Linked DNA regions of Homo sapiens. The protein of the gene in region 2 purifies or fractionates together with the protein of the main gene of each other region. This does not show direct contact. Each region holds a gene or a part of one and is shown on either strand. Other genes may lie near its edges.

Evidence for each region.
Region 1: the proteins of HSP90B1 (region 2) and NDUFA9 fractionate together in Homo sapiens (co-fractionation; one large-scale study listed by BioGRID). This does not show direct contact.

What each region holds. Positions count from the first base shown.
Region 1 is NC_000012.12:4,655,614-4,659,113, reverse strand, and holds part of NDUFA9 (NADH dehydrogenase [ubiquinone] 1 alpha subcomplex subunit 9, mitochondrial precursor), read right to left. Parts: intron 1,367-3,500; coding exon 1,275-1,366; intron 79-1,274; coding exon 1-78. UniProt on the Homo sapiens protein: Accessory subunit of the mitochondrial membrane respiratory chain NADH dehydrogenase (Complex I), that is believed not to be involved in catalysis. Required for proper complex I assembly.
Region 2 is NC_000012.12:103,943,910-103,947,409, reverse strand, and holds part of HSP90B1 (endoplasmin precursor), read right to left. Parts: intron 793-3,500; coding exon 714-792; intron 625-713; coding exon 469-624; intron 100-468; coding exon 1-99.

The sequences.
Region 1 (3,500 bases), about 99 Mb from region 2:
TTTTCAACTCCAGCTTCCTTGGACAGTTGAGCAATTGCTTGGGGAATCTTCACAAAAACATCCTCAAAATCAAAGTTTCTGGAAGATAAAAAATAAAAGGATTGGTTAAGAACTCCACACACAGGATCTCAAAGCTTTACGTGATAAGATGGTTTTCATAACAGTACTGAAATTCACACTACTTAAACTTTTAAACAGCAATGATTTAACTTAAAGCTAAATTTGGCCAGGTGTGGTGGCTCATGCCTGTAATCCCAGCACTTTGGGAGGCCAAGGCGGGTGAATCATTTGAGCCCAGGAGTTCAAGACCAGCCTGCACAAAACAGTAAAACCCTGTCTCTATTTCTAAAAAAAGAAAAAAAATTTTTAATTTTTTTAAGCTAAAATTATTTTTTTAAAAAAGTTGACAGCTCTGCTGTCATTACTCTACACAATTTAAGGACTACTTTAAGTTAGAAATCCAGTATACTTCATGTTCTGCATTATCAGGGAATCCTGAGGCTGAGGCCCTTTAAAGAAACCTGGCCGTACTGGCTGCTGAAGTGTTAGGAATCACTTCTTACCCCGGGACTTTGTTTCCCGCAAGGGAAAAAAAAGAAACTAAAAACAAGTCAGTCAACAATTTCATTCGGTAACGTTAACTAAATGTTTACTCTGTACAATACACTATGTTAATCATTAGGGGGGATAAAAAGTTGAATAAGACCCCCAAGTCATCAAAGAATTTATAAAATATTTGATGAGAAGACACATATTAAAAAACTAAGTCAAATTTTAACACTATAAAAAGAGGTGTAAACAAAGTGTTGTGGACTATAGGATTGAAACATTATTTGTTAATAAACAATCCATACAAAGAACTGTTCAAATTAGTCCTCACGCCACCTCCAATTAACAATGCAGAAAAGACATCTAGAACACTGTCTACACAAGAAAAACCAAAGTTCAGCTTGCTAAACAGCAGAACAGGCAAAATCCTATTTCTTAACCCCATCCCATAGGGACTGATCCAAGTACAGGACCAACAGCAGCCACACCAATACCACCTACTGGCTTTTTATGGGCAGTATATCACACTGCTGACTTATACCAGACTTAATGTCAGCTACATCTCCTCAGGGGTGTCACTGGGTATGCAAGTGGTTGTTCAACCAACCCTTATTCACTAATTGAAAATGTCACTGTGATAGCTGGCACATAAAAGGTGCCCAGCGAAGGTCCATTAAACCCTAAGAAAGACTTAAGCAAAGAAGAAACAAGAGTCAAAGACTTACTTGGTTTCCCAGTCTCGTCCAATAAGATTGATGACCACATTGCTGTGTTGTACTACTCGTCGGATAGAATCTTTATCTCTCGCGTCCCATTCCTATAATAGCAGAAAGCAATCGGATGAAAACATAGGGGTATACCTCAGCACTCAACACTTCTGCAGCCTCCTCAATGCAAGTTTCAAAATGGGCCATCTGCTGTAGTCATAATATAGTGCCATTTCATCCAAGCTCCATTTATTACAACAGAAATGACATCTCAGACTCCCTGCTGATTCCCTCACTCTTTCCGAGACAAACAGGTAACAGTACACTTTACTCAGGTAATCAAATGACAGAGCTAAAAAGGAGGCTATTGATTTTTAATGGAGCATATTAGTTTTTGTCCACCCAACTACTCCTTACTAAGTTTGAAAAGAAACCCAGGAAACCAAGTCTCCAATCCTGAAATACAGACAAAGAAGCAAGGATCATTAGGGAGATAGACTTTCCCTTCTTGACAGCAACCACTTACAGACTGAAGATAGGAAGAGTGTCTTTTAAAGACTAGTGTTAGTTGGGGCCATTCATGACTATTTTCTTATTTCTTTTTAATTCTTTCCTCTTTTATAACCCCAGATCTAGTAATTTCTCCATTAACAACATAAAAACAAGAGTCAAAGAGAACTACCTAAAACTTCAGGGTGAGCCAAGGGCAGGTTTCTATAAGCATTTCAATGGAAGATAACAAGTAATAAGAATTTCTTAGCACCAAATAATAAGTGCACATGCATGAGTCAGTGCAATAGGAAGGAGACAGAGCAAGAAGGGAAAAGAGAAAGAAAGTGGGGATGAAAGAGAAAGAGAGAGAACTAGGATGTCTGTTTAATTTAGGAAAGAGAAAACAAACTATAAAATCAGATTCAAGAACAAAAAGATGAAGCCCCAGCAGGAAGAACCAGTTAGGACTGATGATAGAAAGTGGGTTAAAAGACACAGTCTAAACAGTGGCTTTGGAGTCAAACAGACAGGAATGCAAATCCCAGTTTGCCATATACTAACTTTGTACAAATTATCTCTTCAAACCCCATGTAAAATTAGAAAACACAACTTACCTCACGAGGTTATTATGACGATTAAGTGAAATATACATAAAATCTACAGCAGTGAGTGATGTAATAAAAGGAAACCAAATTTTCAGGGCTAAGGCCCAAGGGCACACAGTCAGGTGGGCAAACCAAGTGGACATTCAGACAGCAGATGCAAACAAAGACTAAAGCGGGGAAATCAGCACCTCACACCCCAAATAGTCCTTCTCGAAAATAAACACATAAACAAACACTAAACATACAAGTCTCTGAGTTCCCTGTGGTCTTGGTCATCCAAACGTGCTCAGAGCACAGGTCAATGCTAGACATTCAGGAAATAAATCTCTGCAGAAATAATGGAATAGATGTCATTTGGTTTAATTCCAATGGTTCAAAAGTTTTCACCTATCACTTTTTAAATACTTCAATTTTGAGGCTCTGACAAGGTGACCAACAAACTTGAGGGACAAAGAACTAGGAATAAGCTAAGATTCTGTAACTTTAATACCAAGAATATACTTAATAGTAAGATTTTGGAGAAGAAAAACATTTTGGAAATAAGAAATTTCTGATACAAGTATTATACTTAGCTTGTGAACACTGAGTCAAGAATAAATGAAAATGTGAAAATGAAATGAAAATAAATCAAAATTTAAAGGGATTACAAATAATCTGTATGAATATTACCAGAGATAGTAAGAAAGTTTAGCAAGTATTTTTTAAAAGGGAAAATGTATAACTCCATTCCTTACAGGACAACACAAGTAGGAAGTCAGCTATAAGATCAGTAGATTTAAGCATCAAGGCCCAGACAGTATCGCAATCAATAGCTTGGCTGCAGGCATTTGGGGCAGCACAACTCTTTGTGGAAAGAGACTGTCCTGTGCTCCGTAGGATATTTAGCATCCCTGTGCCTGTACCTAATAACCAGGACAGCTCCCCAATCACTGTGACAATCAAAGAGTTCCATTAATCACTCCCTTAATGGCCCTCCTCTACCCTCTTTCCCCTGCCTCACCGCATTGGCAACTACTGCCCTAAAGAACCTGTAGATTAAAGGACGACAAAGGGAATGCTCAGAAAGGACTGTTCTAAGTTAAATCTATACTAAACAACCAAGTTATAAAACACCCTATTTGTGATTTTTTTATGTTTATAGAGCACT
Region 2 (3,500 bases):
ATCTGTTCCCACATCCATTTCTTCATCTTCGTCTTGCTCTGTGTCTTCTGTTGTGTCTTCTGCTGTCTCTTCAGGTTCTTCTTCGGGCTCTTCTTCCACCTAAACACAACATTTATGGGCCCATTAATGCCTTGGATTTATTTCCACTTTGCTCATTTATATGTATAAAATCATAATTAATGTCACTTCTGTTTATTCAGAACCACAGACTAAATCCTCTTAACTAGAATGAACAGCCAAGCTAACAAAAGGAGGCAGGCAAAAAGGAAAGAGGACGTAAAAGGAGGACTTAGTTTCTAGTGCAGTGCCTGACACTACAGGGATTCAAACATTCAATAAAATTCTTTCAAAAGGTAGAAATTAGGCAAATGTCGCAAAGCTACATCCCTCAATCATGAGAGGCCTATTCTGAAAGAACAGAAACAAAGAAAGCCAGCCAGCCTTTGCGGGAAGGTTGGGGATACAAACCTTTGCATCAGGGTCAATGTTCAAACTGAGGCGAAGCATTCTTTCTATTCTATCTCCATATGCTTTAGTGTCTGGTAAAAGATACCCTGACCGAAGCGTTGCTGTTTCAAACAAAACCACAGCAAGATCCAAAACTGTTTTATCATCTTCATCTTCCTGAAATGCAAGAAGATGCACTAGATTAATATTAAAAGATACAAAGTACTCAAATTAAAAGACAAGCAAGAGGACTGCTTTAATACTACCTTAATTCGTCGAAGCATGTCTCTGATCAGCGGGTGTCTGGGATTAATTTCAAATGTTTTCTTCTGACTCGCATAGTAACTGTTAAGAGATAAAAATGAACATTAACAAAACATATCCAATTTTAGGGTTCATACGTTTCCCTTATTCTTTCATAATTACACAGAACAACTCTTGGTAAAAAAAAAAAATCAAAATGTACTATTGACACTTGAACACCACAGGTTTGAACTTATATGCTATTTTTTTTCCAATAAATACAGTCCGCCCTCCGTATGTGCAGGTTCAGCAACCAAACTCAGATAGAAAATACCGTATTCTTGGGATGTGGAATCCACACACACAGAGCTCCCACTCTTCATATACACGGGTTCCACAGGGCAGACTGGGGGACTAGAATATTTGTGGATTTTGGCAGGGGTCCTAGAACCAATCTCCCTCATACACCTAAGGACGACTGTACTTTTCCAGTCTACTTTATCTGCAGAGTCAATCAACCTCGGATTGAAAATATTAGAAAGGGCAAAACAAGAAAAAAATAAAAAACCCAATACAGTATAATAGCTATTTACATAGCACTTAAATTGCATTAGGTATTAAAAGTAATCTATAGATTATTTAAAGTACATGGGAAGATGTGCATAGGTTATATGCAAATACGGCACGACTTTACCTAAGGGACTTGACTATGTGTGGATTTTGGTATCCATGGGATGTTCTGGAACCAACACCCCATGGACAAAAAGGGATGACTGCACTGTTTCCTTATTTAGTTTTTATAGAGACAGGGTATCACTATATTGCACAGGCTAGTCTTGAACTCTTGGCCTCAAGTGATCCTCTCACCTCAGCCTCCCAAAGTGTTGAGATTACACACGTGAGCCATGTGCCCAGCCTGTATTGCTCCCTTTTAACGGGGAGGTGGGGTGGGGAGCAAGTGGACACGGTTAGATGAAAAATGAAATGAAGGGAACTATTTTATTTACTGATGAGTCCCAAGTACCTGGAGCACTGCTGAACAGACGAACTGATTTAATGTCCTGTTTGTTCCCTCTTAGTTTATTCTTACTACCGTAATTGTAGCTCTGCCTCCCCAAGTTCAGAAAAATCTATGTAGCCTCTGGATTGTGCTCCAATAATAATACCTTCTCCACGATGCCTTCGCCAATGATTCCAAGAAAAATTAACTTTATCTGAGCTCAGTTCCAAATGCATTTTGAATATACCTTCAAAATCCTTAGCTTTTTACTGTTGGTTGTGATTATTCTCTCTTCTCTAGTTTAAAGCTCTGAGGACAGGGAGGAACCACATCCTTCCCTATCCTGGTGTACCCATTATCTATGTAGGGCTCGGATTATGACTTGCTTTTTTTCCTCTTTTTTAAATAAAAAAGAGACGGAGTCTGGCTATGTTACCCAGGCTAGAGCTAGAGTGCAATGCCATTACAGCACACTACAGCCTCGAACTCTTGGAATCAACTGATACTCCTGCATCAGCCTCCTGAGTGACAACAGGAGTGAGTCACCATGCCTGGCTTTGATTTGTCATTTTCACTAGTCTAAATGTTAGAAAAGACAGGAGTTATGTCTACCTGTGACCATCAGTGCATGGACATAGTAAGTCTTCATGTTTGTTGGATGCAAGGTAACTTCCTATTAATCATTTCCTGAAATTAATAGGTGGACATGTTTTAAATGGCCCTTGTACTATTGCAATGGGATATCAGATAAACAGAACACTATTCTCTGCATGAAATTTATAGTTAAAAGACATATATGGAATTTTAGAATTGTGACAACAATGGAGACTACATTTGTGAGAAAAGGCTTTAAGAATAATAATCCTGGCCAGGCGCAGTGGCCCACGCCTGTAATCCCAGCACTTTGGGAGGCCGCAGAGGGCGGATCATGAGGTCAGGAGTTCGAGACCAGCCTGGCCAACATGGTGAAACACCGTCTCTACTAAAAATACAAAAATTAGCGGGTGTGCTGACAGGTGCCTGTAATCCCAGCTACTCAGGAGGCTAAGACAGGAGAATTACTTGAACCCAGGAGGCGGAGGTTGCAGTGAGCAGAGATTGCGCCACTGTACTCCAGCCTGGGTGACAGAGCAAGACTCTGTCTCGGGGGAAAAAAAAAAAGAATCCTTAAGCTAGGCCTTGGGAAAAAAGGATGATGACTAGATAGCATATCAGAAACATACTCCAGGTGAAAGAAGAGAGAATAAAAGTAGGGGAGAAGTCATTTTCAAGATCATTGCTGTGACATTAAAACATAAACTTGAAATACTATATTTCTTGAAAATAAAGAGTACCAAAGACTCACTATACCTCCAGGTATAGGCCCTTGAGTTCAAATACTGTTAATTCACAGGTCCTGTACCGTCTACTTTATGAGACATTCTATCTGGATACCCATAATTTAATGCTTGGGGGTGTGGGGGACGTGATTTGAAATGGACTTAACTCACTTGAGGAATGTTGTCATTAACCTCGTGCAGCTATTACATTTAAAAATGTAAAATAAATTCAGATATTAGGCTAAGCATATAATCCAATGCAAAAGTAAAGACTATGCATAACACATTAAGAAAATTCCCATTTACATATCAAATACAATAAAATCAGAAAATCATGAGTCAAAGACCTTTTCTTTCTCAATCAAATGTAGGAGAAATCCCTTCGTAAACTTGTTGTCTACCTTATAGTAGACAGTGGTAGACATTTAAGGCAATTTTACTCTTTGTATTGAAGCTGGTATTATCTCCAAAACAAAGATTGGGTAAGGGGC